Homo sapiens: one gene and its partner. The protein of the gene in region 1 interacts with the protein of each later gene in a pairwise test. Each region holds a gene or a part of one and is shown in the gene's direction. Other genes may lie near its edges.

Evidence for each region.
Region 2: the proteins of SLC23A1 (region 1) and NBPF19 interact in a two-hybrid assay, tested with the Homo sapiens proteins (one large-scale study listed by BioGRID).

The regions. Positions count from the first base shown.
Region 1 is NC_000005.10:139,380,463-139,385,005, reverse strand, and holds the start of SLC23A1 (solute carrier family 23 member 1), read left to right. Parts: upstream 1-1,708; 5' UTR 1,709-1,726; coding exon of another isoform or gene 1,727-1,752; coding exon 1,753-1,788; intron 1,789-2,400; coding exon 2,401-2,514; intron 2,515-2,956; coding exon 2,957-3,114; intron 3,115-4,119; coding exon 4,120-4,208; intron 4,209-4,373; coding exon 4,374-4,441; coding exon of another isoform or gene 4,442-4,453; intron 4,454-4,543.
Region 2 is NC_000001.11:149,477,785-149,481,591, forward strand, and holds part of NBPF19 (NBPF family member NBPF19), read left to right. Parts: intron 1-160; coding exon 161-263; intron 264-1,095; coding exon 1,096-1,310; intron 1,311-2,357; coding exon 2,358-2,430; intron 2,431-2,894; coding exon 2,895-3,100; intron 3,101-3,807.

The DNA.
Region 1 (4,543 bases):
TGCCTGGGGCAGGCCCTGGCCACTCCAGCTTCCCTGGGAGCTGCACTCAGCCCCCTCCATCCTTCACCTGTTCCAGGACCTGCCTGAAGCCCCACCATCCGTGGCCTTCACTCAGGAGAGAAACCCTAGACACCAGGAGGAAAGTCAGGGCCCAAGAAACCCACTAAGCTTTCAGGACAGGGTGTGGAGCCGGGCACCCATGACGTGGACCTGTGTTTCTGTGGGGTGATTAGAGAGGCTGCATCAGCTCTGGGTGTGTGGGCCCCTTCATGCTACTGTGGATCTGGGACCGTGTTCTCCACCTTGTTCTCTATGCGTGTTGTGTGGTTTGGGTTGAATTGAGTGTCCATGGAGCCGTATCTGCAGGGGGTCGGGCTTGGTCTCCACAGCACCCTGGGGAGTTCTGGGAGGAGAAGTTGGAGAGAAAAGTGCTGGGGAGTTGCAGAGGCTTCAAACTGGTCCAGCAACTTTGGAAATTGGGAGCAGTAGCCAAGAGGGAGAGGAGAGGACAGGCGGACAGAGGAACAGTGTGGACACCGGCAGGCGGGCGGACTCAGTGCTGTGGCATGAAGCTGCTGCCCAGCTGGAGAGCGGTGCTGCCCCTTGGCCCTTCAGGCAGGGCCTGGCCATGGGCACAGCGACCCAGAAGTAGGTGGGCTCTAGAGTGCTGGGGCTGGGGCAGCCCAGAGGGGAACAGAATGGGGACCTCAGGCCCAGCCCTCACCAGCTGAGGAGCCTGAGTTCTTAGGGCCCCTCCCCATGTCCCCCTCTGCCATCTCAGGCCCTAGGGCCAGGCTGGGCTGGGCCTGCCAGGAGGGGAGACAGGCTGGGCATAGGACTGCCTTCCTGGGCTAGGTGATGGGCAGTCACACAGGGCTTGGTGCATAGAAAGGCCCCACGCTCCATCTAATGCTCCTGCTATCTTTAAATTCTTTATACTTTTGGAATAAAGGCCTCACATTCTTACTTTGCACTGGGTCCCAGAAATTATGTGGCTGGGAGGGGAAAGGGATCTGTGCCCTGACACAGAGTGCAGACCCGGCTGGGCCAGCCTAGGCAGCTCTGCCTGCAGAGGCCCATCTGCTGCCTGCCTCAGGGACCCTGAGGGGTGCAGGGTGGTGAGGGCAAGGCAGCTCAGACCAACCTGAATTTTAGGATTGGTTTCTGCAAACTTGCTATCTGCATGGCTTGGGTCAAATCACATCTACTGAATCTGTTTCCTTCGCTGTTAAAGGGGTTAATACCGCCCAGCACAGGGGTTACTTGGGACAGTGCAGATCCATGTTTCTTGGCACAAGGCCAAGGCCATTCCTCAATAACGAGAATGACTATGATGATGATGATAATGATGAACTAGTTATTAATCAGTGGGGAAGGGCCTCATACAGGGGGTTACATAATAAGTGCCTGTTTCCACTCCCTCTTTCTCCGCTCACCTGGGGCTTGGTAAACTTCTGGTCCTCACCCCCTCGACTCTGGCCCTCTCTTGGGAAACAAGAACAGGTCCAGCGCCCAGGCGCAGATGTGGGCAGGGAAGGGCACATGTGGCAGAGGCTTGGGTGGCTTTTACTGTCCTAGTGAGAGTTAATACATTACCTCTGCCCGGGCCCCCCTTTCGCAATCCAGAGCTGGGCATCTGGTTACAGATTTACTTCAAACAATGCCTGATATGTGGAGTAAAGTCCTCCTCCTTGGCCTTTGTCAAGTCATCCCCTCTTCTCCTCAGGAACTGCTCAAACCTGTGCCCCAAAGATGAGGGCCCAGGAGGACCTCGAGGGCCGGACACAGGTGCTGGGGGCTGGGGGTGGGGGCTAGGGGGGGCAGGGGGGGTGGGGGGCTGGAGGGCCTGTGCAGGCCTTCTTCCTGGAGGCCAGAGATAAACGTTCTGATGAACTTGATAAGAGTGACTGTCCCAAATTGAATGTGGCAACTGGGGGATGGGTGGAGGTGGGGGTGAAGGAGCCTGCAGCTTTGGGACTGGCTGACTCCAGGTTGGGGTTCAGGAGAGGCCTAATCTCCCGGCCAGTGACACCCCAAGGATCTCCAGGGGGCAGAGGTGGGACCGGATTGGACTTGTCCACAGTCTTGAGCCCTCTTGGCCCCCTCTCCTGTGGTCTCCAAGACTTCTGACTTAAGGGTCCACTTCCCTGGCTAAAATGGCAGGTCCTGAGGGCTCTAGAAGCTGGCACAGTAGACTCATCCCTGCGGGAAGCAATGCAAAGTGGGAGAAAACTGTGGCCAGGCCAAGTGGCACCCGGGTGGATGGACTGTTGGGGAGGGCGGGAACCCCGCTCTCAGTTGCTGACAAGCCACTTGGGCTGCCTGATTGATTCTGGGGCAGAATGGATTTTGCCTGTCCCCATCACTTCACCCTAAGCTACTTATCTCTGCTGCCTCCAGCATGAAACCACCAGGGACCCCTCGACCCCGCTACCCACAGAGCCTAAGTTTGACATGTTGTACAAGATCGAGGACGTGCCACCTTGGTACCTGTGCATCCTGCTGGGCTTCCAGGTGGGTCCCCCAGGGCCTCCCCGCCCTCACTCTGCACACTCCCCGGGGACTCCAGCCCCTCCCTGGCCAGCAGGGAGTATCTTGGGTAACAGGAAGAAAAACCTGAGGTCAGCACAGTGGCTGTCAGCAAGCAGGAGTCGGGAAGAGGCTGAATCCTGAAAGAAGATGAACTCCCTGGGGGAGTGTGACGCTTGCCAGGTGGGGTGTTGGTGACAGGGAGCAGAGCCGACTCCACGGAAGCCGCAGGAATATCTTGAGTGGAAATTAGTGACCCCCAGAGTGGTCAGCAGTAGCTCTCTGGGAATCCCTTGTGGGGACTGCCAGTCCTGGGCAGGCAGCCGGTTCCAGGCCCGCTGAGGCAGGCATGAGGACACTAGGTTGTCCCCTCTCCCTGGAGCTCTGGGGTCCTGCCTCATGCACTCTGCTGTCTCCCTCTGCCCAGCACTACCTGACATGCTTCAGTGGTACCATCGCCGTGCCCTTCCTGCTGGCTGAGGCGCTGTGTGTGGGCCACGACCAGCACATGGTTAGTCAGCTCATCGGCACCATCTTCACGTGCGTGGGCATCACCACTCTCATCCAGACCACCGTGGGCATCCGGTGAGCCGCCCAGCCCCCCAACCCGTCCCCCGCCACCCCTCCACTGTGATCCACACAGCAGGAGCAGGTGGGCTCCCAGAGGACACTGGTGAGACAAAAAAGCCGCTTTCTGCCTCCACCTGCTTCTCCTATCCCAGGCCAGCCTTAGAGCTGGGCAGCGTGGCCCCAACCCTGGGAATCTTGATCTAGGCACACTTCAAAGACCAGGCATCTGCAAGTTTAAGGGATTGTACCCTCGCTGGCTCTCCCCTCTTTTTTTTTTTTTTTTTTTTTTTTTGGAGACGGAGTTTTGCTCTTGTTGCCTAGGCTGGATTGCGGTGGCGTGATCTCGGCTCACCACAACCACCACCTCCCGGGTTCAAGCGATTCTCCCGCGTTCAAGCGATTCTCCCACCTTAGCCTCCTGAGTAGCTGGGATTACAGGCATGCGCCACCATGCCCGGCTAATTTTGTATTTGTATCTGCCCACCTTGGCCTCCCAAAGTGCTGGGATTACAGGCGTGAGCCACCAAGCCTAGCCGGCTCTCCCCTCTTAAACCCCATTCTGAATATTGCCCAGATGGCAGCCCTGAGCTAGCTCCCAGGGTTGGTGCCAGCCTCTTCGACAGCCCACCCTCCCAGGGCCCCACGCTCCCGAGTGCACAGCCCTAGGCCTGGGTGGCATTTGAGCTGTTTGAGCAGCGGGGGACAGGGGAAGATTGTGAGAGAAACCTGGATGCGGGAACTGAGGTGTCCACTTCCGGGCAGGTGCCCCCTCCTCACAGTGCAGGAGCTGGTGGTGGGAAGGGGGCAGGTTTTGAGCTGGGGGCTCCATTTGTTTTCTTCCTTGGGCAGCCAAAATGTTAGAGATGGTCTTCCCTGGGGCCTCAACGATTTCCATCTGCCCTTGTCCCTTGTGTCTCTGTCACTCTCTCTGTGCTCTCCCTTCCTGATCTCTCCCCGCATCTTTATCCCTCCTCCCCACCCGCCCCTCCCCACCCCTGTTGCTTTGTGCCTCTCCTCCAGGCTGCCGCTGTTCCAGGCCAGTGCCTTTGCATTTCTGGTTCCAGCCAAAGCCATACTGGCTCTGGAGAGATGGAAATGCCCCCCGGAAGGTGGGTACACTTCTGGGGTCTGCACTGGGGAAAAGGGGAGGCCCAGAGACCTGGAGGTCTGAGCAACTGTCCCGGGTCAACACCAGGGTGCAGCCATGGCAGCATCTTCTCTCCCTCTCTGTCTCTGTACCTGGTCCGTGTGTGTATCCCTGACTCTACCCCCAGAGGAGATCTACGGTAACTGGAGTCTGCCCCTGAACACCTCTCATATTTGGCACCCACGGATACGGGAGGTGGGTTTGCATGTAAGCATAGAAGAGGCCGGGTCCTGAGGAGGGGCTATATGGGAGTGAGGGTGGCCGCTGAGTTTGGGGATTTGAGGAGGTGGTCCAGGA
Region 2 (3,807 bases), on another chromosome or scaffold:
AGTCAGGAGACTGAAGAATAAAGATGTGGAAATCCCTGTCTAGACCCTGGTACTGGGGAGAGTTTTGTCCTTGGGATGGACCTGGCTCCTGCCCTGTAGGCAGTGACCACAGCAGCATGTCCAGCCTTCCACTGAGGCAGGCGTGTCTGTCTTTTCTCAGAGTATGAAGAGTGTAAAGACCTCATAAAATTTATGCTGAGGAATGAGCGACAGTTCAAGGAGGAGAAGCTTGCAGAGCAGCTGAAGCAAGCTGAGGAGCTCAGGTGAGGGGACCCCGTGGGGGGAGGGCAGGCGGGTAGGTGTGTAGATCTCTGAAGTACAGCAGCTCGGCGGGGAGAAATAAGAACGAAGCTGGGCCAGGGGAAGGGCAGAAATTGCCATGACAGGCTCATGACACACAAATATTTATCAGTGAACAAGGATAATAATAAGTTCTGTGTTGCAGTTGTTTCTTAGAGCCTTGTTTTCTCTTTTTCAAACAAGTAATTGTTGAGGTGAAATTTACATAACACAAAATTCACCAAAGGAGTGGGAACCACCCAGCAGCATTCAGTATAATCAAAATGGTGTGCTATCACCACCCCACTTACCCTTAGTGAGAATCACCTCCTGACTGACTGCGTCTTCTCATTCTTTCACTCAATCAATGTTGCCTTCTTGACCCTGTCCTTCTTTTCTTCTTTCATCTTTTCAATTCGCCCCATCTGCACCTGGCCTCATTTCTGTACATGGCTTTGTATTTAGTGGCCGCAAGATGCACTATGTGTATTTTCACATGGAAATGTCCATGGCCAGAGTGAGGAACTGAAAGGATGTCTTTTTGAAACGGAATTAGGAAGACACCTACTTTTGTTTACAGAAGAGAAAGATGAATGGAACATCATCGAGGATCTTGCAGGAGCCCTCTCTGATAGAGGGAAAGCCTGTAGACCATTTTCTATTCTTCCTCTTGGCCACAGTCATTCCTTTCAACATGTGCTGACCTTCTGCTTGGAGGTCTCCTTGAGGACATTGTCTCAGAAGTCTCTGTTGCAATATTTGAACGGATCACTCAACCCTTTCTACTCTTAAATTTTCTCTACCGTCTCACCTTAGGCAATATAAAGTCCTGTTTCACTCTCAGGAACGAGAGCTGACCCAGTTAAGGGAGAAGTTACGGGAAGGGAGAGATGCCTCCCGCTCATTGAATGAGCATCTCCAGGCCCTCCTCACTCCGGATGAGCCGGACAAGTCCCAGGGGCAGGACCTCCAAGAACAGCTGGCTGAGGGGTGTAGACTGGCACAGCACCTTGTCCAAAAGCTCAGCCCAGGTAAGGTGGCCATAGGCCCTGATGACCCAAAACCCCAGGCTTATGAGAGGCTCCAGACCTCCATACTTTCACAATGACAGTTATATCAGTGGGGTTTTTTTCTACTACACCTATGTGGCCATGACATGATCAGGACTTCCTGGGTAAGAACAGAGATGGGAAACCCATGGGTTTGGAGGTCACAGTATTGCAAGTGTCCCTCCTTCCTTGATGGAAGGTGGTCTTTGGAGCAAGAGGCAGCATCTATCTAGTTTTAAAGGACAGGAAGGAGGCTGTGATGGAAGGGCGCTTGTTGGAGTGAAAAGAGCTCTGGGCTAAGAATGAAGGTTCCCAGGCTGTATTTTTGGCAGTGTTCTTAGTAAGTGTCAGTGAGTGATTTATCTTTTCAGAGTTTCTCTCTCTCCATCTGCAAAGGCAGACAAATTGTCTCTTGCAAGGGTCTGAAGCATCCAAATATGGGAACACTTACGAATGCTTTTCAAAATGAGATGAAGCCCCTCTCCATGTGGTGTTGGAGAAGGCACTTGATGTGGGGGCATTTGGTGGTAGGAAGTGCTTCAGACTGGAGCACTCCCCATGGATAGAATGTCCCTGAATAACACAGCAGAAGCCACATGGAGGGCCTGTGCAGTCTCATGACGCATAGAGGACTGTGGGACAAGTTTGTCCTCTCCTAAGAGAAAGAATGAGGTTTGAAATGCAAACCGTGACAGGACACCAAGCCTGTGCCTGGGAATCAGATCTGGCAGGATGGGGGAGACAGCTGCCAACGTCCAGAGAGAGGCTGCACAAGCCTCCAGTGATATGGGAAGCAAAAGGTCTTTTCAATATTTGGCCACATCTTGATGGTGGCCCTCCAGATCAGAAATGCATTGCCTGATGGATCAGGAAACCATGGCAGGGCATTCTGTTAAAGATAAAACATGAGAGTTTTCAGTTGAACGGTGACCCATGCCTAGATGTTCATGTCTCTGTTGCACATTGGGCTGACTGTGCTTGCAGACTGTGAAGTGGGAAATATCTGAACGAACACTTCTGTATTTACAGAAAATGACAACGATGACGATGAAGATGTTCAAGTTGAGGTGGCTGAGAAAGTGCAGAAATCGTCTGCCCCCAGGTAACACTGAATACTCAGGAACAATTAATGGATGGTAACATATGAGGAATATCTAGGAGGCACACCCTCTCTGGCATCTATGATGGGCCAAAAACCCGCATTCGCTTGGCCACAGTATGTGAAATATAATCCAGCTTAGACACAGGGTGCGGTAGCTGTCATGTTTCTCTATGTGTGCTGAGTGTCATGTCTGCACCTTACAGGGATAGCTGAGTCTTCATCCTCCTCAGCTCCTATCTGTCCAGTGCAATGAACAGCAGCTGCTCTCTTCCTCTCTGGTTCCCATGGCAGCCATGCTCTGTTGCAGAGAGAACAGGATTGCATGTTCCCTCTTAATGGGAACCTCCATTTTGCTTTCTGGGACCACTCTCTTAATGCCGCCTGTCAAAACCAGCTAGGACTCCCTGGGGTCCAATCCCTCTGTGTTTAATCTTCTGTCATCTCTGTCCCACCTGGCTCATCAGGGAGATGCAGAAGGCTGAAGAAAAGGAAGTCCCTGAGGACTCACTGGAGGAATGTGCCATCACTTATTCAAATAGCCATGGCCCTTATGACTCCAACCAGCCACATAGGAAAACCAAAATCACATTTGAGGAAGACAAAGTCGACTCAACTCTCATTGGCTCATCCTCTCATGTTGAATGGGAGGATGCTGTACACATTATTCCAGGTAGCCTCTGTTTTCCTTGTGTCTCATACCTCTCTCTAGGCTGAGAAAGATAAACTCTGAAGACAGGCTCTATAAACACAAATTCATTTGAATAAAAAACTGTGATGGGTTTCTAAACAGATATCAGGGAGTTTTTTTGTCCTTCTCAGCTAATGTCATGACTTTGTCTGCCAGTCCCCAGTATCAAGTTACTCAACCCCAGGCAAGTGTGACAATCTCATAGTCACCTGAGTGCAGGAGGTGCACAGGCAGTATCTGTCAGGCCTCCTATCTTCGATTCAGTATCTCTTGTCATCTGTGATTAAGTCATCTGTCCCTGAACAATGTCCATGGAGTTTCTATGCCTGTTTAAGGAAGCTGGCAGCCTTGCCTTTGTATTTGGAAATATTGTTCCCCAGGCTTCACTGCTCTCAGCTTTCATCTGGATCTCCTTTAAGTCAGCTTGCTTAGCTGCACAGTCACCCTGAAATCAGGACGGAAACTTTTCTTCTTTACTTTGCTGATATATTTCCATAAAGCAAGGCTGGACCCTGGTTCTCCACCCTGTCAATGCAATGGCTGATCCAATGTTTCTTTGTAGCATCGTGGATTTTTTTTTTTTTTTTTTTTTTTTTGCAATGGAGTCTTGCTCTGTCACCCAGGCTGGAGTGCAGTGGCACCATCTTGGCTTGGTGCAACCTCTGCCTCCCAGATTCAAGTGATTCTCC